Linked DNA regions of Homo sapiens: regions 1 and 2 are each linked to region 3. Evidence: fine-mapped expression QTL. A gene starts in region 3. Each other region holds a variant in brackets. All regions are shown on one strand. Distances are between the middles of the regions. Region 1 overlaps PILRB (paired immunoglobin like type 2 receptor beta). Region 2 holds the start of LOC124901841 (small nucleolar RNA U13). Region 3 holds the start of PTCD1 (pentatricopeptide repeat domain 1).

Evidence for each region.
Region 1: its variant is fine-mapped to the expression of PTCD1 in whole blood (TOPMed, PIP 0.90).
Region 2: its variant is fine-mapped to the expression of PTCD1 in whole blood (INTERVAL, PIP above 0.99).

Annotation. Positions count from the first base shown.
Region 1 is chr7:100,363,955-100,372,121 of GRCh38, forward strand. It overlaps PILRB (paired immunoglobin like type 2 receptor beta), which reads left to right. Exons shown (of 4, transcript NM_178238.4): 4 at 3,395-3,877. The coding sequence ends at 3,423. It overlaps STAG3L5P-PVRIG2P-PILRB (STAG3L5P-PVRIG2P-PILRB readthrough), which reads left to right. Exons shown (of 17, transcript NR_036570.1): 17 at 3,395-3,877. It also overlaps a transcript of PILRA not described here. Among named protein-coding and RNA genes, the nearest start is that of PILRA, 5.4 kb to the right of the region's middle. RefSeq lists enhancers at 1,601-1,760, 1,791-1,840, 1,861-1,910, 2,761-2,840, 6,450-7,201. The variant C/T (reference allele first, on the strand shown) is at 3,330.
Region 2 is chr7:99,412,101-99,420,274 of GRCh38, forward strand. BUD31 (BUD31 spliceosome associated protein) reads left to right here. Exons shown (of 6, transcript NM_003910.4): 4 at 4,038-4,160; 5 at 5,329-5,495; 6 at 7,291-7,516. The coding sequence ends at 7,341. ATP5MF-PTCD1 (ATP5MF-PTCD1 readthrough) reads right to left here. Exons shown (of 9, transcript NM_001198879.2): 9 at 4,639-8,049. The coding sequence ends at 7,867. PTCD1 (pentatricopeptide repeat domain 1) reads right to left here. Exons shown (of 8, transcript NM_015545.4): 8 at 4,639-8,049. The coding sequence ends at 7,867. It overlaps LOC124901707 (a long non-coding RNA gene), which reads left to right. Exons shown (of 2, transcript XR_007060451.1): 2 at 89-195. It also overlaps LOC124901841. RefSeq lists a silencer at 3,533-3,582. The variant C/A (reference allele first, on the strand shown) is at 5,044.
Region 3 is chr7:99,435,260-99,443,433 of GRCh38, forward strand. It overlaps PTCD1 (pentatricopeptide repeat domain 1), which reads right to left and starts at 3,539. Exons shown (of 8, transcript NM_015545.4): 1 at 3,433-3,539; 2 at 1-9. ATP5MF-PTCD1 (ATP5MF-PTCD1 readthrough) reads right to left here. Exons shown (of 9, transcript NM_001198879.2): 3 at 1-9. CPSF4 (cleavage and polyadenylation specific factor 4) reads left to right here and starts at 3,684. Exons shown (of 8, transcript NM_006693.4): 1 at 3,684-3,926. The coding sequence starts at 3,824. It also overlaps the pseudogene LOC100131859. RefSeq lists silencers at 33-180, 3,679-3,978 and enhancers at 1,307-1,832, 3,129-3,418.

The sequences.
Region 1 (8,167 bases), 930 kb after region 3:
AAAATTAGCCAGGCGTGGTGGCGCATGTCTGTAATCCCAGCTAATCGGGAGGCTGAGGCAGGAGAATCACTTGAACCCGGGAGGCAGAGGTTGCAGTCAGCCAAGATCACGCCATTGCATTCCAGCCTGGGCAACAAGAGTGAAACTCCATCTCAAAAAAAAAAAAAAAGACATAAATAGAGCAGTGGAATAGAATACAGAGCCCACAAATAAACCCTCACATAGATAGTCAAATGATCCTCAACAAGGGTGCCAAGATGACCACTCGACGAAGAATAGTTTCTTCAACAAATGGTGTTGAGAAAGCTGGGTACTCACATGCAAAACATAAAGGTGCATCTCTGCCAAAAAATTAACTCAAAATGGATTAAAGACTTCAATGTAAGACCCAAAACTGTCCAGTGTCTAGAAGAAAATACAGGAGAAAACATAGGGTGATGAGACAAGATGGTGGGTCCTTGCACCATCATCCCCAGACCCATGGTTTTTATTCCACAGGGGAAGGATGGTTTGTATTCTACAGGTGAAGTATGATCACATCAAGGTTGTTTGACTCCAGGGCAGGATTTATGATACGTACCTGCTCTTACACAAGAACGATAGATCAACTGGAAATCTTAGAGGCCTTCCCAGAACTGGGGTTAATCAGAAGCTGCCATGGCAGATTAGCTTCCAAGATGGAGTTGCCTTAGCCTCCACAATATTAAAAGTAGAACTACCATATGATCCAACAATCTCACTTCTGGGCATCTATCCAACCAATTGAAAGCAGGGTCAGGAAGAGGTGTTTGCACACCGATGTTTGTAGTAGCATTACTCAAAATACCCCAAACGTAGAATCAACTGAAATGTCCATCAAACAAAATACGGTGTCTGTAGTCCAAGCTACTCGGGAAGCTGAGGTTAGGAGAATGACCTGAGCCCAGGAGGTTGAGGGTGTAGTGAACTATGATTGTGCCACTGCACTCCATCCTGGGTGACAGTATAAGATCCTGTCTATTAAAAAAAAAAAGTTCTGAAAAAAATAATATTATTGAATCTTTTTTATTTAGTTATTTATTTTGAGACAAAGTCCTGCTTTGTCACCCAGGCTGGAGTGCAGCAGTGCAATCTCAGTTCACTGCAACCTCCGCCTCCTGGGTTCAAGGGATTCTCTTGGCTCAGCCTCCCGAGTAGCTGGGATCACAGGTGTGTGCCACCACACCCAGCTACTTCTTGCATTTTTAGTAGAGACGGGGTTTCACCATGTTGGCCAGGCTGGTCTCGAACTCCTGACCTCAGGGGATCCACCCACCTCGGCCTTCCAAAGTGCTAGGATTATAGGCGTGAGCCACTATGCTTGGCCTCAACCTTTAAAGGGAAGGAAATTCTTACACATGCTGTAGTATAAATGAGCCTTGAGGACATTATGCTAAGTGAAATAAGCTAGTCACAAAAAGATAAATACTGTCTGATTCCACTTACATGGTATCTAGAGTAGCCAGATTCCTAGAAACAGGAAGCAGAAAGGTGGTTGTCAGGGGCACAGAGGAGATGAGAATGGAGAGTTAATATTTAAAGAACATAGAATTTCAGTTTTACTGGCCCAGTGTGGTGGCTCACGCCTGTGAGGAACATGCCTTGGAAGGCTGAGGTAGGTGGATCACTTGAGGCCTGGAGTTCGAGCCCAGCCTGGCCAACATGGCGAAACCCTGTCTCTACTAAAAATACAAAAAATAAGCTGGTGTGGCGGGGGCACCTGTAATCCCATCTGCTCGGGAACCTAAGGCAGGAGAATCACTGGAACCCAGGAGATGGAGGTTGCAGTGAGCTGAGATCACGTCACTGTATAGCAGCCTGGGTGACACAGCAAGACTCTGTCTCAAAAAAAGAACTTTTGGGTTTCAGTTTCGCAAGATGAAAATGTTCTGGAGATCTGTCTCACAACCATGTGAATACACTTAACACTGCCAAACTGTACACTAAGCAATGGTTAGGATGGTAAATTCTAGGTGGTTTTTTTTTTTTTTTTTTTTTTTAGACAGAGTCTCGCTTTGTCACCCAGGCTGGAGTGCAGTGGTGCGATCTTGGCTCACTACAACCTCCACCTCCCAGGGTCAAGCAATTCTTCTGCATCAGCCTCCTGAGTAGCTGGGAGTACAGGCACATGCCACCACGCCCGGCTAATTTTTGTAATTTTAGTAGAGACAGGTTTTCACCATATTGTTCAGGCTGATCTCGAACTCCTGACCTCAGGTGATCTGCCCACCTTGGCCTCCCAATCCTGGGATTATCACCGCGTGAGCCACCGCACCCACCTTAGGTGTTAGGCTGGAAGGAGTGAAAGTTGCAATATGAAAATGATACTAGCAGTTAATATTTCAGAGTTCCCAGTCCCAACATTAAAAAACAAAAAACCTGTAGAAGTGGAAGGGGAGGTCCCTGGAGTTGAGGGGTGCCGTGAGGCCTGGGTTCAGAGGGTGTCTCTGTGGACGTGGAGCCCTCCCAGGAGGGGGCTGGATGGTGGAGGGGATGTCTGTGGACCAGGAGCCCAGTGCTTGGGAAACACTGCAAGGATGCCAGGGGGACAAGAGGGGCAGGGCACAGTGGGAGAGGCAGCAGAGGATTCAGGGTGAGACCAGCCAGAGGGGAGGGGAGGCCTAGAGGTGGCAACAGAACTTGAACAGCCACAAACATGAGTCCCAAGCATGAGGCTCCCAAGGCTGGAGGGCAGACACAGCCGCCACCCAGAAGGAAACCACAGGCGCGGTCTCCCTGAGGACCTGGAGGGAGAGGTGGGGGTGCCTATGTCAAGGGAAGGGGAGGGAAGGAAGAGATGGGTGGGCGAGGGCTCAGCGATAGAGGGAGCCAGGTTGGGGCTGAGCAGAGAGCTCAAGAGCGAAGGAAGCCAACAGAGGGTAGCAAGGTTTTGCGGGGGCGGTTTCAGGAGATGACGTGGTGGACAACAGGGAGAACAGGTCGGGGGGGAGCCTCAGGGTGCCAGCTGAGTCCCAGGCCCTTCCTGATGGGTTTGGGCAGAGCTGATCTGCTGCTCTGGTCCCTCTAAGGAGGGCCTCAGCCTAGGGCGCAGCAGAGAAGGTGGGATGGAGACTGCTATCACCTGGATGCCACCCTGACTCACTGTTGGTCCCCCTACACGTCAGCAGCGGACTAAAGCCACAACCCCAGCCAGCTGAGTGCTGGGCCTCCCCAAGGGAGTGGGGAGTACAGGTGCGGGCAGGGGACGGGTTTGGAAATCAGGGACTGTGCTGCTAAGAACCCCACAAGCCCAGCCTGCCACAAATTCTCCTGAGTTTTTGCCACCTCCCACTTAAATCTGATCTCTGAAG[C/T]AACTGCCTCGCCTGCCTCACTAATAATCCTGGCCCTGCATCTAAAAACACTTCCCCTCCTGCAGGTAGCAGGGCGCCAAGCAGTGACTTCTGACCAACAGAGTGTGGGGAGAAGGGATGTGTATTAGCCCCGGAGGACGTGATGTGAGACCCGCTTGTGAGTCCTCCACACTCGTTCCCCATTGGCAAGATACATGGAGAGCACCCTGAGGACCTTTAAAAGGCAAAGCCGCAAGGCAGAAGGAGGCTGGGTCCCTGAATCACCGACTGGAGGAGAGTTACCTACAAGAGCCTTCATCCAGGAGCATCCACACTGCAATGATATAGGAATGAGGTCTGAACTCCACTGAATTAAACCACTGGCATTTGGGGGCTGTTTATTATAGCAGTGCAAAGAGTTCCTTTATCCTCCCCAAGGATGGAAAAATACAATTTATTTTGCTTACCATACACCCCTTTTCTCCTCGTCCACATTTTCCAATCTGTATGGTGGCTGTCTTCTATGGCAGAAGGTTTTGGGGAATAAATAGCGTGAAATGCTGCTGACACTTCCCTGTGCATCTCCCACATGGCTGCCAAGTGCCCCTTCCTGCTCTGCAGTACCTGAGTCCAGTCATGATGCAGGGAGCCTCCCCACTAGAAACAGATGGCACTCACAGATTTAAAGCAGTTGGAAGCAAGTTTAAGAAGGGAAATCTTTTTTTTTTTTTTTTTTTTTTTTTGAGACAGAGCCTCACTCTCATCACCCAGGCTGGAGTGCAGTGGCGCAATCTCTGCTCACTGCAACCTCTGCCTCCTGGGTTCAAGCCATTCTCATGCCTCAGCCTCCCAAGTAGTTGGGATTACAGGCGTGCACCCCCACACTCAGCTAATGTTTGTATTTTTTAGTGGTACTGGAGTTTCACCAAGTTGTCCAGGCTGGTCTCAAACTCCTGGGCTCAAGCAATCCTCCAGCCTCAGTCTCCCAAATAGCTGCAATTACAGGCGTGAGCCACCATGCCTGGCTGAGAGGGAATCGTTAAGAAGGAGTGGGCAGGGGCAAGAACACTGTCAGAGACAGTGTGTTGGCCACGGCTACTACAGCAAATTGGCTGCTTCCTGTGATCGCACGGGTTGAGGGCTCAGTTCCACAAGGCTGCCCCAGCATCAGATGCCAGTCGCAAGCTCACGTGGTGCCTGTGCTTCTGACACAGGGCTATAAAAATTGAGGTTCCCATGATCCCCTCCTTGGGTTCAATTAATTTTCTAGAATGGTACCTAGAACTCAGGGAAGCCCTTTACTTACATGTGTCCCCTTATAAAGGATATTATAGGGCCTGGCGCCATGGCTCATGCCTGTAATCTCTGTGCTTCAGGAGGTTGAGGGGGGAGGTTCACTTGAGCACAGGAGTTTGAGACCAACCTGGGCAACATAGCGAGACCCCGTCTCAAAATAAAGATATAGGATATTACAAAGGATAGTTATGAACAGCCAGATATAAGAGATACACAGAGGGAGGCCTGGGGGAAGGGGTGCAAAGCTTCCGTGTCTTCTCTAGGCACTGCACCCTCTAGGAAGCTCCATGAGTTCAGTTATCCAGAAGCCCTCTGCATCCCTTTTGGGTTTTTATGGGCTTCATTATAAAGGCATGATTGGGCCAGGCACAGTGGCTCATGACTGTAATCCCAGCACATTTTGAGGCTGAGGTGGGAGAATCAATTGAGCCCTCAGGTGGCAACTGAGGCTGCAGTGAGTTGTGATTGCACCACTGTACTCCAGCCTGGGTGACAGAGAGAGAGCCTGTCTCAAAAAAAAAAGACAAAACAAAAAACCTGGCCAATACGGTGAAACCCCATCTCTACTGAAAATGATCGTCACCTGATCCCCACCCCTTGAAGATGCCTCCACCCTCTCCATACGCATTTGGTCAGCACTAACTGCCCTGGGTGACAGGCACACTGCACTGGGTGACAAGGACCCAAAGCTACACCAGCCAGTGCCCCAGCCCTCAAGCACCTCCCTGTGCAGAAGGAAGACAACACAGAAAAGGGAAGCATGGTTGTCACAGAGGCCCAGAGGACTGCTGGCTGATGTCACTGAATGGGGAAGTGGTTGGCCGCACAGGCCCCAAGCTCAGACCTGATGCCACAGTGGACGTTCCTGGGCCATGTGACCTCAGGCTAGGCTCAGAACCACCCTCAGGGCCTCCGTTTCTTTCTGTATAAATTGAGGACCATACAGAGATGCTGCCTACCTCCTGGGATTGTCCAGAGAGTTAAAAGCTCTTTTAAAATGCGCCTGCTGGGCCAGGCACAGTGTCTCACACCTGTAATCCCAGCACTTTGGGAGGCTGAGGCAGGCAGATCACAAGGTCAGGAGGTCGAGACCAGCCTGAACAACATAGCAAAGCTCCATCTCTACTAAAAATACAAAAAGTAGCCGGGCGGGCATGGTGGCACGTGCCTGTAATCCCAGCTACTCAGGAGGCTGAGGCAGGAGAATCACTTGAACTCAGGAAGTGGAAGTTGCAGTGAGCCGAGATTGTACCATTGCACTCCAGCCTGGGTGACAGAGCGAGACTCCGTCTCAAAAAATAAAAATAAATCAAATGCACCTGCTGGCAGGGCGCGGTGGTTCATGCCTGTAATCTCAGCAACTTTGGGAGGCCTAGGCAGGTGGATCACCTGAGGTAAGGAGTTCAAGACCAGCCTGGCCAACATGGTGAAACCCCATCTCTGCTAAAACTACAAAAATTAGGTGAGCATAGTGGTGGGCACCTGTAGTCCCAGTTACTCGGGAGGCTGAGGCAGGAGAATCGCTTGAACCTGGGAGGCAGAGGTTGCAGTGAGCCGAGATGGTGCCACTGCACTGCAGCCTGGGCGACAGAGTGAGACTCCGTCTCAAAATAATAATAATAATAAAACAAAATGCACCTGCCATTTCTTTCCATCAGGTATGGCCATGGAAATGAGGGTCATAAGGGAAGCAGTGTATCCTCACAGATCCCCAGAAACGAGAGACACAGCCATGCAGGGCCACTTGGGAAAGCACCAGGGTCCCTCAGGGAGTAGAGGAAGCCAAGGGAACACAGGGGTGAGACCCTTTGTTATGCTTTCCCTGGAAAAGGCAAGGAAGGGTATGCAGGTTTAGGATTGGCTAGTTAGAATAACGTTAGCAGGCTCTGGGGATTAGAGGCTGTCATTTGTTATTTGGTGTCTGGCCCAGGATGATGAAGGCAGAGAAATACTGCCTTCTGAAGGGTGAGAGGCAGCTAGAAGAGCTGGTTCAGTGTTGGGGCCCTGGATTAGCTGGTTTGCATATGAAAGGCACACTCAGCCAGGAGCCGTGGCTCAAGCCTGTAATCCCAGCACTTTGGGAGGCCGAGGTGGGCAGATCACAAGGTCAGGAGATGGAGACCATCTTGGCCAACGTGGTGAAACCCCGTCTCTATTAAAAATACAAAAATTAGTTGGGCATGGTGGCACGCACTTGTAATCCCAGCAACTTGGGAGGCTGAGGCAGGAGAATCGCTTGAACCCAGGGGTGGAGGTTGCAGTGAGCCGAGACCGTGCCACTGCACTCCAGCCTGGCAGCAGAGTGAGACTGTTTCAGAAAAAAAAAGGGACACTCTCAGAGGGGTCATTTGCTAGCTCTAACAACTGGCTGGCTCTGGCAGGGGCAGTCCCTCTCTCTGCTCTTGGAGGTCCAAGATGCCAGAATATCAGCAATCCAGTGGGGCTTGGTGAGGTGGCTCACACCTGTCATCCCAGCACTGAGGGAGGCCGAGGCAGGAGGATTGCTTAAGCCCAGGAACTTGAGACCAGCCTAGACAACATAGTGAGACCCCATCTCTCAAAAAAAAAAAAAAATTAGCCGTGTGTGGTGGTGTGTGCCTGTGGTCTTCACTACTTGGGAGGCTGAGGTCAGCAAATTGCTTCAGCCCAGGAGTGATGGTGATCGCGTCCCTACACTCCAGTCTGTGGACACTCTAGTACCTTGAGGACAGTACAGCCTGATTACAGAAGCTTTACAGCAAGTCTTGAAGTCAGGTATTATAAATCTTCCACCTTCATTCTTCATTTGTAAAGGCCTTTTGGCTATTCTAGGTCCTTTGAATTACTGTGAGAATATTACAGTTGGCTTGTGAACTCCACAAAGCCTATGGGATGTCGATTGGGATCAGAGGAAAGCAGGAACGGTGGGTGCCAAGGAGAGGTGAGGGGCTGGGGGCAGGGACGGATGTGGCCAGTGAGGACAGTAGGATACTTGTTGGGGGAATGTGGGGACATCCAAGCAGTGGTTCTCATAATGCGGTGCAGGGTACTTACCCCCTCCCTGCCCCTGCTCCCCACACACGACTTCCCACGCCTCTCCCATGAGCACCTGCACTAAGGGGCTGCATTTAGGCTCTGCCCACATTGGAATCATGCCCTCCTCCAGGCCCTCCTCCTCCTCTCAGAAGCCCTGTCTGTGAGAGAGCCACAGCCCCAGGCTCAGTCCCAGGTTCTGTCACTGCTGTTGGGGGAGGGAGGATGAACAAATCCAGGAGACCTCACACCATCCCAGAGCAGAAATCCTGACACAGAAGGAATCTCCCATGGGGGTTCAGCTGGATCCAGGGCCTGAAAGTGACATAAACATGCATGTTGCATCTAAGGAGACTGCACGTGGCAGCATTGGGCAGCATGTGCCCTCCAGAGCTACCCAGAGGCTGTTGGCTATAAGTTCTATGTGGCCCCCACATTGGACAGCCTGGTAAGCAGGTGACCTTTCAGCCAGGTCCTCAGGTGGGGCGGGCCACCCTCTCGAGGCCCTGCCCAGACAGCCAGGGGGTCCCTTGTCCTCTCTGCAGCCCATC
Region 2 (8,174 bases), 23 kb before region 3:
TAAATCAATGTTAAATTACTTTGCCCCTTTTTAAAAAAACTGTTCGTACCAGATAACTTCTATTAAATACTCAGTACTTGTTTTGCAGTTTAGATTTGGATGGGCCTATTGCAGTAATCACGGTCATTTTGGGCTGAGAGATGTCTTCCCGAAACAGCTCTTTATCAAAATAAAGGAAATGGGAGCATGCTGGAATAGAAGAGATTTTGCAAGTCCTTGAAAGTAAATTAACTTCATCTTCTAAAGGGTGACTTTTGAGGGAAGGAGGAACCCTACTTTGTGTTTAGATATTCTTTACCTCCAGACAGAAGTATTCTTTGTTCTGTTTTCTTTTTGTTTTTGTTTTGAGACAAGGTCTCACTTTGTTGCCCAGGCTGGAGTGCAGTGGTTCAATCACAGCTCACTGAAGCCTCCACCTCCCAGGCTCAGGTGTTCCTCCCACCTCAGTCTCCCAGGCAGCTGGGACTACAGGCATCCACTGCCACGCTTGGCTAAGTTTTCTTTTCTTTTTTTTCTTTTTTTTTTTTTTGAGACGGAGTCTCGCTCTGTCACCCAGGCTGGAGTGCAGTGGCGCGATCTCCGCTCACTGCAAGCTCCGCCTCCCAGGTCCACACCATTCTCCTGCCTCAGCCTCTGGAGTAGCTGGGACTACAGGCGCCCGCCACCATGCCCAGCTAATTTTTTTTTTTTTTTTGTATTTTTAGTAGAGACGGGGTTTCACCATGTTAGCCAGGATGGTCTCGATCGCCTGACCTTGTGATCCACCCGCCTCAGGCTCCCAAAGTGCTAGGATTACAAGCATGAGCCACCGCGCCCGACCAACGCTTGGCTAATTTTTTGTAGAGATGGGGGTGTGTTAGTCCATTTTCACGCTACTGATAGACATACCTGAGACTGGGCAATTTACGAAAGAACGAGATCTAATGGACTTACCGTTCCATGTGGTTGGAGAGGCCTCACCATCATGGCAGAGGCCAAGGAGGAGCAAGTCACGTCTTAACATGTGTACCTGCTGAATCTTTACTACCTGCTTTTCTGCTTGGATCACAGCATTCTGTTTGTTGAGCTGAATTGTAATTCCTAGGTAATAGAATGGCTTAAAAGCTGGAGACAGGGAGGGATAGTCTTCTTGACCACTCTTCGCCCTTCTGTTCTTCCCTAAAAACTGAGGAGGTCATAGACAAAGATGAACTTGTGACTGCTGAGAGAGAGAGAACTGCCTTGCGGCAAGTATGAGTGCCACCTGATCCTGCGTGTGTTGAAGGAGCAGCTTCTGCTGTGGCTACTTCCCTCAGAACCTGTAGACTGGTCTAGTTTATTTAGCTTTTCCTCAGCCCTAAAGGACTTTGGCTGGGAGATGAAATTAGAAGTGCCTTCAAGATGATTAGGATGCCCATCTGTGGGCCTAGAATTATCTTGATTAATTATTACGCTGTAGAAATAGATCTGAAAGCATAGGGACCAAGGTTGGTTTTTTGGCTTTTTTTTGTTTGTTTTGTTTTGTTTTTTTTTGAGACAGGGTCATCTGTCATCCAGGCTGGAGTGCAGTGGCACAATGTCAGCTAACTGCAACCTCTGCTTCCCAGGTTCAAGCACTTCTCGTGCCTCAGCCTCCCGAGTAACTGGGATTACAGGCATGTGCCACCATGCCCAGATAATTTTTGTATTTTCAGTAGAGACAGTGTTTTGCCCTGTTGGCCAGGGTGTTCTCGAACTCCTGACCTCAAGTGATCCACCCACCTCGGCCTCCAAAAGTGCTGGGATTACAGGCGTGAGCCACTGTGCCCAGCCGGGACCAACCTTTTAACAGAAGTTACCATTAAATGTCTTTAAAAATCTATGTTTTCTAATTCTGTAATTAAAAAGACTTTTTTTCTTGTCACATGGGTAATGTGCCAACGTTGTGACAAGGTTTGAGAGTGGCATGTCTCACACATGGATGTGAACACCCAAGCACACTCATGAATTACAAAAGGATCCAAAAATAGACATTTTTAATTTAAAACAATTATGTTTAAATTACTTAGCTTATTTTTTATTTTTTTATTTTTTTTTTTGAGACGGAATCTCACACTGTTGCCCACGCTGGAGTGCAGTGGTGCGATCTTGGCTCACTGCAACCTGTACCTCCCGAGTTCAGGCAATTCTCCTGCCTCAGCCTCTTGAGAAGCTGGGATTACAAGCGTGCACTACCACGCCCGGCTAATTTTTTAATTTTTAGTAGTGATGGGGTTTCACCACGTTGGTCAGGCTGATCTCGATCTCCTGACCTCGTGGTCCGCCCACCTTGGCCTCCCAAAATGCCCGGCGGCTTATTCTGTTTTTAAATAACAGCTTTATTGAGATATTAATCATATACTGTAAAAGTGAACCTGTTAAATTATCCAATTAAGGGGTTTTTAGTATATTCACAAAGTTGTACGACCATTGCCACAGTTAGTTTGATGTTTCAAGGTTCATCTGTGTTGTAGAATATATCAGTACTTACTTCATTCCCTTTTTTTTCTTTTTTTGAGACGGGAGTCTTGCTTTGTTGCCTAGGCTGGAGTGCAGTGGTGTGATCTCAGCTCACTGCATCCTCCGCCTCTGGGTTCAAACGATTCTCCCACCTCAGCCTCCCAAGTAGGTGGGATTACAGGCATGCGCCACCATGCCCTGCTAATTCTTTTGTATTTTTAGTAGAGATGGGGTTTCACCATGTTGACCAAGCTGGTCTCAGACTCCTGACCTCAAGTGACCTGCCCACCTCAGCCTCCCAAAGTGCTGGGATTACAGGTGTGAGCCACCGATTCCGGCCAGCCCTGTTTAACTTCTTGAGGAGCCACCTAACTCTTCTGCAGTGGCTCCACCATTTTACATTCCCACCAGGAACGTAGGAGAGTTCCAATTTCTCCACATCCTTCCCAACACTTGTTATTGTGCCATAATTTTGATTATAGTCATCTGTAGGGTCCAGCCCCACAGGGTCGGTGGGTTTCTCCCCGTGTGTGGAGACGAGAGAGCGTAGAAATAAAGACACAAGACAAAGAGATAAAAGACAGCTGAGCCTGGGAATCCCACCAAGACGCGGAGACCGGTAGTGGCCCCAAATGCCAGGCTGCACTGATATTTATTGGATACAAGACAAAGGGGCAGGATAAGCAGTGTGAACCATCTCCAATGATAGGTAAGGCCACATGGGTCACGTGTCCACTGGAAAGCGGGCCCTTGCCTGCCTGGCACCAAGGCAGAGAGAGAGAGACAGCTTATGCCATTATTTCTGCTTATCAGAGACTTTTAGTACTTTCACTAATTTGCTATTGTTATCTAAAAGGCAGAGCCAGGTGTACAGGATGGAACATGAAGGCGGACTAGGAGCGTGACCACCAAAGCACAGCATCACAGGGAGATAGTTAGGCCTCTGGATAACTGCGGGCGGGCCTGACTGATGTCAGGCCCTCCACAAGAGGTGGAGGAGTAGAGTCTTCTCTAAACTCCCCCGGGGAAAGGGAGATTCCCTTTCCCGGTCTGCTAAGTAGCGGGTGTTTTTCCTTGACACTAACGCTACTGCTAGACCAAGGTCCGCTTGGCAACGGGCATCTTCCCAGATGCTGGCGTTACCGCTAGACCAAGGAGCCCTCTGGTGGCCCTGTCCGGGCATAACAGAAGGCTTGCACTCGTTTTCTGGTCAGTTCTCACTATGTCCCCTCAGCTCCCATCTCTGTATAGCCTGGTGTTTCCTAGGTTATGATTGTCGAGTGAGGATTATTATAATATTGGAATAAAGAGTAATTGCTACAAACTAAGGATTAATGATATTCATATATAATCATATCTAAGATCTATATCTAGTATAACTATTCTTATTTTATTTATTTTATTATACTAGAACAGCTCGTGCCCTCGGTTTCTTGCCTCGGCACCTGGGTGGCTTGCCACCCACAGCCATCCTAGTGGGTATAAAGTGGTATTTATTCATTATCAGTAGTTACTTACAAAAAGAAAATCCTGCGCAGACCGACCCTATTCCCCCAAACACACTCTTTGTTTCTCCCCAGCTGAAACAGAACCGCATGAGGGAAAGAGGAAAGTGGAATCTCTGTGGCCCATCTTCAGGATCCACCACCAGAAAACCCGCTACATCTTCGACCTCTTTTACAAGCGGAAAGCCATCAGCAGAGGTAATTAGTCAGTCTCTCTTGGACTTTGAAGCTCGCGTCACTTTTGGAGTTACTGAACTAACCACAATCCTTATTCTCGCAACCTGTGCAAGTCATGGTTTTTCTTACCACGAAAATTAGGGGGAGCCAACGTTGGCTGAGTTTTGTGTGTGTGTTTGTTTTTTGTTTGTTTGTTTTGAGATGGAGTCTCACTCTGTCACCCAGGCTGGAGTGCAGTGGCGCAATCTTGGCTCACTGCAAGCTCCACTTCCTGGGTTCAAGCGATTCTCCTGTCTCAGCTCCCAAGTAGCTGGGATTACAGGCACCTGCCACCACACCTGGCCAATTTTTGTATTTTTAGTAAAGATGGGGTTTCACCATATTGGTCAGGCTGATCTTGAACTCCTGACCTCAGGTGATTCACCCGACTCGGTCTCCCAAAGTGCTGGAATTATAGGCGTGGTCCACCGCTCTTGGCTTTTTTTTTTTTTTTTTTTTTGAAACAGGGTCTTGCTCTGTTCCACAGGCTGGAGTGCAGTGGTGCAATGATGGCTCACTGCAGCCTCAACCTTCTGGGCTCAAGGGATCCTCTCACCTCAACCTCCTGAGTAGCTGTGACTACAGGTGTGCACCACCACACCCAGCTAATTTTTAAATTTTTTGTGGAGATGGGCCCTTGGCCCAGGCTGGTTTCTTAACTCAAATGATCCTCTGGCGTTGGCTTCCAAAAGTGCTGGGATTACAGGTGTGAGGCACCTTGCCTGGCCTAAGTACTTTTTTTTTTTGTTCCTCCTCCAAGGACTGTCCCGTTGCAATACTGAATGCCTTTTTTTTTTTGAGATGGAGTTTCGCTGTCACCCAGGCTGGAGTCCAGTGGCACGACCTCAGGTCACTACAACCTCCG[C/A]CTCCTGGGTTCAAGTGATTCTCCTGCCTCAGCCTCCTAAGTAGCTGGGATTACAGCTGCTACCACGCCCGAGTAATTTTTGTATTTTTAGTAGAGACGGGGTTTTACCATGTTGGCCGGGCTGGTCCTGAACTCCTGACCTCAGGTGATCCGCCTGCCTCGGCCTCCCAAAGTGCTGGGATTACAGGTGTGAGCCACTGCACCCGGCCTGAATGCTTTTTTTGATCAAGGGTGGGGAAGGTTTTTAGACCATGGCCTGATGCTCTTTCCCCATCTTTTTGACAGAACTCTATGAATATTGTATTAAAGAAGGCTATGCAGACAAAAACCTGATTGCAAAATGGAAAAAGCAAGGATATGAGAACTTGTGCTGCCTGCGGTGCATTCAGACACGGGACACCAACTTCGGGACGAACTGCATCTGCCGCGTGCCCAAAAGCAAGCTGGAAGTGGTAATGTCTGACACTCAAGCTTGGTGTTGTTTTCAGCTCAAAATTCTGCCTTAGTCGACTGCAAGGGATCTTATGTTATTTGGTTGGGCTGGAATGTCGTTTTGTCCCTGGATGTCCTGCTGGCTCTCCCTCGTGGGAGTGGGTCCCTGTATTCAGGAATCCATGTGAGGCAGCGTGTGGCTGTGTGTTTGTTAGGTCTGGGGTCAATCTCAACTCCACTTTTGGGCAAATTACTGAACCCCTTTCCTCACTTAGGAAATGGTGGTGGGGAGCCCTAATCCCAAGGTGGTGGCAGGGTGACATCAGGGAAGGACAACCAGTGAGTTCCTGTCCCTTTCAGTCCTCACAGTGATACTTTAACATTACCATCACTATCTTTCCCGCCCCCCCAAGACGGAGTCTTGCTTTGTCGCCCAGGCTGGAGTGCAGTGATGCCATCTTGGCTCACTGCAACCTCCACCTCCCGGGTTCAAGCGGTTCTCCTGCCTCATCCTCCTGAGTAGCTGGGACTACAGGCATGCACCACCACGCCTGGCTAATTTTGTATTTTTAGTAGAGACGGGGTTTCTCAATGTTGCTCAGGCTGGTCTCGAACTCCCGACCTCAGGTGATCCACCCGCCTCAGCCTCCCAAAGTGCCGGGATTACAGGCATGAGCTACTGCGCCCAGCCCACTGTGTTTCTTCTTTCAGAACTTTCTGTTCCAAGTACCACTCCTAGGCCAGGCGCCTCAGGAGTGGTGCTGAGGGACAGGAGCTGAGCTCCATCCGGTTCCAAGCCCCTCTGAAAGGCAGCTGTGGCCCGAGGCAGAGTCACAGCAGTGGCCGCTCAGTGCAGCCCCTCAGCACAGTTGTTGGCCCCACCGCCCATCTGCCAGCCTGGCCTTCTTTTCCCCAGCTCCACACAGGGGCCTCTTCACATGAGTCCCCTTTATGCTGCAGTGAGACTGACAATGGAGAGCTGTGGCTGGATGCTGAGGACTTGGGTACTGAGCAGTGGGGGCGAGCAAGGGCCGCCTCCCCGACGGAAGACTGGGGTGTTGGTTTTCTGATGGAGGCAGGGACAGGTGGCAGAGTGGCAGAAGCCCCCTTCCTCTGAGTGCCCAGATTCCACAAGGAGTCCAGGTCAGGGGCTGGTGGGCTGGGGTGCTGCTTCAGCCCTGTGGCCAAAACAGCCCGCTGTAGACTTACCTGGGTTTCACCAGAGGATCCTGTTTACTTAAACTATGGTCTTGTTCTTCCAAAAAAAGAACTTGAAAAAGTAAAATAAACACAAGCCACTGTTCTAGGGCTTTCTGGCTGGCCAAGTGTTGGGCCGCACCAGGCCTGGGGGACAAGACCCTTCTTTCTGGGGGGCTCTGGGCCAGAAGGGTGTGACTCAAGTGCATAGTCTCCTGCCCTCTTCCCCCACCAGAGTGTACCAGCCCAGAGGCCCCCCTGAAGTCCCCAAACAGTAGCAGAGCCACGTCTGCTCATCGCAGGGTCTGTCATGCTCACTTAGCAGAATAACGAGACTCATTCACACCGATTTCTTTTTCTTGATTGGCAAACGTGTGTTGGATTTGCAGAACATATTATAAATAGACATACAGATGTAACCTCGGTGTCAACAGCAGCTGGTTCTACCTTCATGAGGGAGCCAAATTTTCCCTGTCCAGAGCTGTCAAGGAAGGGTTTCTGAGGTGTGTCCCTATATGGCATGGTGGCAGGTCCTTCGTGGGAGGGTTGCCACATATGTGAGTGTGCAGGGGCGAGCGTGGCGCAGTGGCATCGTCTCACTGTCCTCCTCCGTTGCAGGGCCGCATCATCGAGTGCACACACTGTGGCTGTCGTGGCTGCTCTGGCTGAGGCTGGCGCGCTCCACCCTGGACTCTGGACTTCGCAGGTTCCTGCCTGTCACGCCACCCCCTTCCTGGGAGCAGCGAGCAGTGCCCCAGGCCCGAGTTGGAGCACGGTCTCTATGGGGAAGGCTTCGCTGTCTATCAGCTGTGATTTGTAAAAATAAAATCTTTAAATCTCTCGAGCCCCACGTCTCTTCTTTCAGAGCATCGGCCTATGGAACCCGGCGGGGCGGCCCAGGCCCCAGGGACCAGATGCCCCAGCCCCCTTGTGGTGTGTGAGGTGACACACAAAGGTAGCTGGAGCTGGAAGTCCCGTGAAGGTGACACGCAAAGGTGGCTGGAGCTGCACTTGGACCTGCTGGGAGCACAGGCACCTTGGGCCTAGTGTGTGTCCTCACCAACACCTGTGACACGCTGCGGCTGTTCCTCAGGGCCTGGCTCTTCCCCCAGGCAGGAGGTGACACCAGCTCACTTGTCCTGGGGCTCCCACAGAGCACTGGGGGCCGAGCACATTGTTCCAGCTGTGCTCCCATCACCTGCCCCCAAGGGCACATCCGTCATCAGCCTCCTTGCCGGTGTCCTGGTCCCCCTGGGGCTTGGTCCGGAACTTCTGCCAGGGGTGCGGGGTTTCCTCTGCGGGCATCACTGTCAGCCACTGCTTGTAATAGGCTCGGAAGCCGTCAATCTTCTCCAGGTAGGTGTTCTTCCCTTGGTACTAGAATTAGAAAAGTGAGGCTAGAATCACTCCTGTTACCTACAGCTAATCCCAAACCTCGGCAGCTGGCTCAGGCCTCAGGGAAGCTGGTGGCTGCCATTTTCCCTTCCAGGTGGCTGCAGAGG
Region 3 (8,174 bases):
CTCCAGGGCCTGGAATATATCAGGAAAAATAAGAGAGTCAACTCAGTTCCTAGTAACAAAAGGCAGAAAGAAAGAAGTGGTTACAAGTATGGGCCCAGGCCAGGCGCGGTGGCTCATGCCTGTAATCCCAGCACTTTGGGAGGTCGAGGCTGGCATATCACTTGAGGTCAGGAGTTTGAGACCAGCCTGGACAACATGGTGAAACCCCGTCTCTATGAAAAATACAAAAATTAGCCAGGCTTGGTGCTGTGCGCCTGTAATCCCAGCTACTCAGGAGGCTGAGGCAGGAGAATCACCTGAACCTGGGAGATGGAGCTTGCAGTGAGCTGAGATTGCGCCACCATACTCCAACCTGGGTGACAGAGTGAGACTCTGTCTCGAAAAAAAAAAGAAAAGAAAGAAAGAAAAAGAACAGGCCAGGGGCGGTGGCTCATGCCTGCACTCCCAGCACTTTGGGAGGCCGAGGCGGGCAGATCAGTTCAAGACCAGCCTGGCGACACCCCATCTCTACTAAAAATACAAAAAACATGAGCTGGGTGTGGTGCTACACGTCTAATCCCAGCTACTGAGGAGACTGAGGTAGGAGAATCGCTTGAACCCAGGAGACGGAGCTTGCAGTGAGCTGAGATCGCGCCACTGCACTCCAGCCTGAGTGACAGTGAGACTCTGTCTCAGAAAAAAAAAAAAATAATAATAATAAATAAAATAAGAAGTATGGGCCCAGAGGTTAGAAAGCCTAGGTTCAGGTCAGACATAGCTCACTGCAGCCCCACCCTCCTGTGCTCAAGCGATCCTCCCATTTCAGCCTCCCGAGTAGCTGGAACTACAGGTGTGAGCCACTATGCCTGGCTAATTTTATTTTTTGGTAGAGACAGGGTCTTGCTATGTGCCCAGGCTGGTCTTGAACTCCTGGACTCAAGCAATCCTCTCGCCTCGACCTCCCAAAGCACTGGGATTACAGCAATGAGCCACCATGCCCAGCCTAAAGTATTTTAGAGTCTGGTTATATTAGAAGGTTGCGATTGGAAAAGTCTTACAAGTGATGGCAGATTGAACAGATTAAAAACTAGGCCCAGTAGGTCAGGAGCGGTGGCTCACGCCTGTAATCCCAGCACTTTGGGAGGCCAAGGTGGGTGGATCCCCTCAGGTCAGGAGTTCGAGACCAGCCTGACGTGGTGAACCCTATCTCTGCCGAAAATATAAAAATTAGCTGGGCGTGACAGCGTGCCCCTGTAATCCCAGCTACTTGGGAGGCTGAGGCAGGAGAATCACTTGAACGTGGGAGGCAGAGGTTGCAGTGAGCCAAGATCGCGCCATTGCACTCCAGCCTGAGCGACAGAGCAAGACTCCATCTCAAAACAACAACAACAACAACAAACAAAAAACTAGGCCCAGCAAGGGGAGAGACTTGCTGGGGTCCTGCAGCAGTGCAGTGGGTGAGACTGGCCAGCTTGGGCTGGGCTGGCTTTGAACTCAGGTCCATGTAACGCATTGATGATTGTCCTGACCAGCACCTTTTGTGAAACTAGTGCAGGGGGCCTTTATCATTCTGCATCTGGCAAGCCCTGCCACTCCTTCTTACAAGCATGGTGTTTATGTAATTTTCTTTTTTGTGGAATGGGGTCTTCATGTTGCCCAGGCTGGAGTGCGATGGCACAGTGGAGTGCAAATGCACAATCACTGCAACCTCCAACTCCTGGGCTCAAGTGATCCTCCTACCTCAGCCTCTCAATTAACTAGCACTACTGGTGCACACCACCATACCTGTCTAATTTTTTGTATTTTTTTGTAGAGATGGAGTCTCCCTATGTTGCCAGGCTGGTCTAGAACTCCTGGCCTCAAGCAATCCTCCAGCCTTGGCCTCCCAAAGTGTTGGGATTGCAGGCGTAAGCCTCCATGCCCTGCCTTACGTGCATTAATTACAATACACAGAATTACAAAACAAAAAGCAATGATATTGAAATGGCATCAAAATGCTTTAAAAACAAATTTCTGCTATACTAGTATAGATGCTTATTTTCAATGCATGAAATAACAAGACCCTATCATAATTTCTTTTCTTTTCTTTTTTTTTTTTTGAGACAGTCTCTCACTCTGTCCTCAGGCGTGACCTCGGCTCACTGCAATTTCCGCCTCCCGGATTCAAGCGATTCTCCTGCCTCAGCCTCCCCTGGAGCTGGGACTACAGACGCATGCCACCAAGCCCAGCTAATTTTTGTATTTTTAGTAGAGACAGGGTTTCACCATGTTGGCCAGGATGGTCTGGATCTTTTGACCTTGTGATCCGCCCGCCTCGGCCTCCCGAAGTGCTGGGATTACAGCCGTGAGCCACCGCGCCCGGCCGACTCTATCATAATTTCAAAGCAGTAATAAATGTAAGTGACAGCTTAAGATACCACCTTGTAGTTGCTGCACAAACTGGGTTTTTTTGCGTCTCACTCTGTCACCAGGCTGGAGTGGGGTGGTACAATCTCGGCTCAATGCAACCTCTGCCTCCCGGGTTTAAGCCATGCTCATGCCTCAGCCTCCCAAGTAGCTGGGATTACAGGAACGCGCCACTACTCCAGGCCAATTTTTATATTTTCAGTAGGGACGGGGTTTTGCCATCCTGTCCAGGCTGGTCTCGAACTCCTGACCTCACGTGATCCTCTCGCCTCAGACTCCCAAAGTGCTGAGGTTACAGGTGTGAGCCACCATGCCTGGCCCTGCACAAACTGTTATCTGGAACTATCATTTACACTCACCCTCACAGTTTCAGGCACTGCTAAGGCTGCTCCAGCAATCAGGAAAGGAAATGCTATACTTCACATAGAGAAAAATAGGGGTGCATTTTGTTCCTACACAAGCTCATTACCCCACCCTGGTTAAAAAAAACCCTGAATTAGGCTGTATAGTGGCTCATGCCTGCAATTCCAGCACTTTGGGAGGCCCAGGCAGGAGGATCGCTTTGGGCTTGGGGCCAGGAGTTCGAGACCAGCCTGGGCAACATAGCAAGACCCGCCACCCGCCCCCCCAACCCCGCCGTCTCTACAAAAATTAAAAATAAAATTTTAAAAATTAGCCAAGTGTGGTGGTGCAGCGTCTGTAGTTCCAGCTACTCGGGAGGCTGAGGTGGGAGGATCGCTTGAGTCTGAGAAGTTGACTGCAGTGAGCTATGATCGTACCCCTGTACTCCAGCCTGGGCCACAGAGCGAGAAAAAACCCTGAATTAGAGACACGCTGCGGCCGTCCTTCCTCGGAGAGACCCGCCCCTCCTCAGAGGCCCACCCGGACCCTCAGGCCAACGCCGACCCCTCTCCACACGGACTTCTGCAGCCTCAGTTTCCCTCCTCAGACGCCCCCGGCTCCAATCCCGGCTCGGGCACTTCCTTCCCCTCTGGCGTGTCTTGGCCCGGGTCCCGGGGCTCCTGCGAGGATCACACAGGAACTCACTTGAAGTGTCCGGCGCAGTGCACTCCGACGGGGAGCCCTGCCCGGTCCCCGCGGCGAACCAGTCTCTTCCTCGGGTCCCCCTCTCCCCAAGCGCGCAGGCGCAATCCGCGTCGCCGACTCACGCGGCTGGTTTCAGGTTTCTGGCGAGGCCGGTGTTCGGCTGGCGGCTAGCTGGGACTAGCGGAACGGCGGAGTCTCGATTGGCAGTGCCTGGACAGGCGCAAGGGCCGGCGCGGGCTCCGGGCGCTCCCGGCATCCCTCGGGCGGCGGCGGCGGCGGCGGCGAGGCGAAGCGAAGGAGGAGTGTGTGCGGCGGGGCCGGCGGCGGGTAAAGGCGAGAAGGCTGCAGGAGACCGAGGGGGAGCCGGGCCGGTGGGGCCGCCGCCGCCGCCATGCAGGAAATCATCGCCAGCGTGGACCACATCAAGTTTGACTTGGAGATCGCGGTGGAGCAGCAGCTGGGGGCGCAGCCGCTGCCCTTCCCCGGCATGGACAGTGAGCGCGGGGCCCGGGCGGGAGGGCAAGAGCGACTCGAACCCGGGACCCGCTCCTCTGTGATCCCGGGACTCCCTCGCCTCGGTCCTGAGACCTCCCCCGGCTTCCTCTGGATCCTGGGACCCCTCCCCTTTGGTCGCAGGACTCCTCCCTCTAGGTCTTGAGAGTCCCTCCCACCTCCTCCGGGTCCTGGGATCCTCCCCTTTAGTTACCGAACTCCCTCATCTGTGGTCCCGAGACTCTTCCCACTCCATCCTGAGACCTCCTCTTCTGGATCCCGGGACGCTCCCCTTGGTTTCAGGACTCCTGACTCCCAGGCCCCCATTTCCACCGTCTGGGGACTCCTTTTACCCTCACTCGGACTCAGGAGTTCACTGCCTCGGATCTTTGGCCCTCTGCGGCTGTTCAAAGGTAATCTGTAGGAGGGTAGACCTTGTCTGTTCGCTTAATTCTTGAATAAGGGTGGGTTATCCTGGATTGGAACTCTCCCTCAACACTCTCCCAACTGCAGGAGAGTACTAGGATATCACACCCGCTACGTTGAGCGTCTCTTCTTGATTTCATCAAAACTAGGCGGTTGGAGGAGATGTGCTGAGGGAAGGACCACCTTTCTGTAGGAGACCCCAGCTAGACTCTCAAACTCCCTTCTAGGACTCACTCTCCTGGGAGCTCATCCCTAGTTTTTGGCCCGTCCCTACTTTTTTCTGGACCCCAACTCTGAGTTATTCATCACACCCAGCAGCTGGTGTGGACCCTTGGCCTGAACTCCCTTCACTGCTCCCCTTCATATGGTGGCTCCTGGCTTCCCACCTCCTACTCGGTGGGATATCTTGTACTTTAAAAGAAACCAGTAGTTTTCTTTGTGTCTTCTTTCCTATCTGGACATACTTGAAATCTAATGCTATAACCTTAAAGTTTGGGGGCTTGTGGAAGTCACTGAGTTCAATCCACAGATGGGGAAACTGAGACCCAAGCGGGGGAAGGGACTTGCTGACAATCACTCAGTGCATAGCAGAGGCGGGCAAGCTCTCCAGTGTTGTGTGCTGTCGCCCACAACTACCAGCGGGGTCTCCCACCGCTCCCAGCAGCCTCACTCCCCTCAGGCGGTCACACCTTCTCATGCACATGTGACCTCTGAGTCTGTCCCTTTATGTGTTTTTGTTGTTGTTGTTTGTTTGCTTTTGAGACAGGGGCCCCTCTGTCGCCCAGGCTGGGTGCAGTGACGCAATCATGGCTCAATGCAGCCTCGACTTCCCAGGCTCCAGCAATCCTCCCACCTCAGTCTCCCAAGTAGCTGGGACCACAGGCATGCACCAACACGCCTGGCAAATTTTTTTGTGTGTATTTCTTGGTAGAGACACTATTTCATCATGTTTCCCAGGGTTGGTCTTGAACTCCTGGGCTCAAGTGATCCTTTTACCTCGGCCTTCGGAAGTACTGGGATTATAGGCATGAGCCACTGCACCTGGCATATATATATATATATATATTTTTTTTTTTTTTTTTTTCCTGCCTGTCCCACAACTTTACATGGTGATAGTTCTGTACAAGATAGTTTCATTGGAAATTAATTAAGTCTTCAAGAAGACAAGATAGTGCTTATAAGGAGACATCATCAGACCACCCTATTTGACACAGGCACAAACACCATCACCACTGTACACTCCCTAAAAAGCAGCTGCTCAAATTCACACACACACACCCCCTCTTACCTACCCCTCGACTCTTGTGATCATCCCTGCACATGTGGCCTTTTCCTGTCTTTTTTTTTTTTTTTTTTTTGAGACAGAGTTTTGCTTTTGTCACCCAGGCTGGAGTGCAATGGTGCGATCTCGGCTCACTGCAACCTCCACCTCCCAGGTTCAAGCAGTTCTGCTGCCTTGGCCTCCTGAGTAGCTGGGATTATAGGCGCCCACCACCACGCCCAACTAATTTTTGTATTTTTAGTAGAGATGAGGTTTCACCATGTTGGCCAGGCTGGTCTTGAACTCCTGACCTTAAATGATCCACCTGCCTCGGCCTCCCAAAGTGCTGGGATTACGGGCATAAGCCACTGTGCCCAGCCGGCCTTTTCCTGTCTTGATGGCACTAGCTTGAGACCATGGAACCACCCACGCAGGGCAGCTCTTTTCCTCCCACCCTTCTGCCATCTGACACATCCACAAGCCTGTGAGGGGAGGTACAGTGGCGAGGGGCCCACATACCTGTTCCTGAGGCCCGGGACACACCTAGCCATGGGTGTTGCTCCAGCCAGGGCTTCAGAGTCGGTAGGCACCCTCCACACTCGCTGCTTGTCCATATCCTGTTCAGTTAAAGCCTAGTGAGGCCACAGCCCTTCCTCACCCATCCCTCCTCTTCATCCCCATCTGAGTTTTGGGAAGAACTGTCACTTTGCCCATAAGGCATACTCATCCTATCCACATGAGACTCAGTTCCCAGAACTGTGTATTTCTGAGCAGAAGCAACTCTAACCTCTAAAGAGAGAGACCAGAAGTACTTTCAGAATTTTTTTTTTCTTTTTTTTTGAGACAGAGTCTTGCTCTGTTACCCAGGCTGGAGCACAGTGACGCGATCTTGGCTCACTGCAACCTCTGCCTCTGGGTTCAAGTGATTCTCCTGCCTCAGCCTCCCAGGTAGCTGGGATTACAGGCACGTGCCACCATGTCTGACTAATTTTTGCATTTTTAGTAGAGATGGGGTTTCACCATATTGGCCAGGCTGGTCTTGAACTCCTGATGTCAAGTGATCCACCCGCCTCAGCCTCCCAAAGTGCTAGGATTACAGACGTGAGTCACCGCACCTGGCCACTTTCAGACTTTTTGAGATGCAAATGGAGTGACCTCCCTGTGACAGCCATAAGTTCTATAACCTCAGCTGTGTCCTAGCAAAATCTGCTTGCTTCCAAGAAGCCAAGGAATCTTTTGTGATTTAGCAAGGGGAGGCATGTTAAGTGGGCTTCAGAGATGCTGTCATTGGTTTTTCAGCAATTCTAAAATGGTTACTTGTAGAGGAAACTGTTTCTGATGCCAAGGTCAGTTTAGTCTGGCAGCTGGGGCTGGTGAATTCCTGGACTCATCAGAACAGCTGGTCCCTGGAGCCCACTGAATTCCAGCACACTCCGACTGTGGGAATGAAAGGCTGTGCTTTTTTTTTCTTTTCTTTTCTTTTTTATTAACAAGCAACATAATCGGCCGGGCGTTGTGGCTCACACCTGTAATCCCAGCACTTTGGGAGGCCGAGGCGGGCGGATCACGAGGTCAGGAGATCGAGACCATCCTGGCTAACACGGTGAAACCCCGTCTCTACTAAAAATACAAAAAATTAGCTGGGCAAGGTGGCGGGTGCCTGTAGTCCCAGCTACTCGGGAGGCTGAGGCAGGAGAATGGTGTGAACCCCGGTGGGGCAGAGCCTGCAGTGAGCCGAGATCACACCACTGCACTCCAGCCTGGGCAACAGCGAGACTCCGTCTCAAAAAAAAAAAAAAAAAAAACAAAAAACAAGCAATATAATCAAAAACAAAAACACAACAACCTTAAAGCTGAAACAGCAATAAGTCAAACTGCCGCGGCAGTTCACAGTTTTACCTGGGGTACCTGCTCCCTCATTGCAAGGCAAGACTGCATTTAGTATATATGTGACCAAGAAGAATGAGAGAAGTGGAAAACACTGGAGAACAGAAAGTATCAAGAACCTTTCATCAGGCAATGCCAAAGCGCTCTGCTCTTTTCCTCTTCTTTGCCTCTGTATCCTCTGTGGTTCCAGTTCCAGCTGAACTTGTGACAATCCCAAATCGCTCCTTCCTCTTTTTCAGTTTCTTATCATCTTCAGACTTTCTGGAAATTGAAGAGACATTCAAACCAAATCTTTGAGCTCTTTCCTTCGGCTTATCCAAGTTAACCATAGGTGTGTTCAGATGACAGACTTTTGTTGGAACTGAAGAAATCCCAAACCTAGCTGCCTGAGCAGCTTTCTTACTCTCCAAGCTCACAGGTACACTGAATTGTTCGGCCCTCTTCTGCATTCTCTCAGCCTGTGGTATTTCAGATGTAATTTTCACCACTTTCTTCTCTGCTGCCACATCAACAGTTTTTTTCAGGGGGTTCTTCCTATTTGACAAGGGGTTTTTTTCTTCTTCTGTTTCATCTCCTAGTACATCTTCATTTGCCTCCTCTTCAGCATGTTCTTCAAGATATGCCTGGAGTCTGTGGATAAGATCTTGCTTTATTCCCTTGGTCTCCAAACCACAAG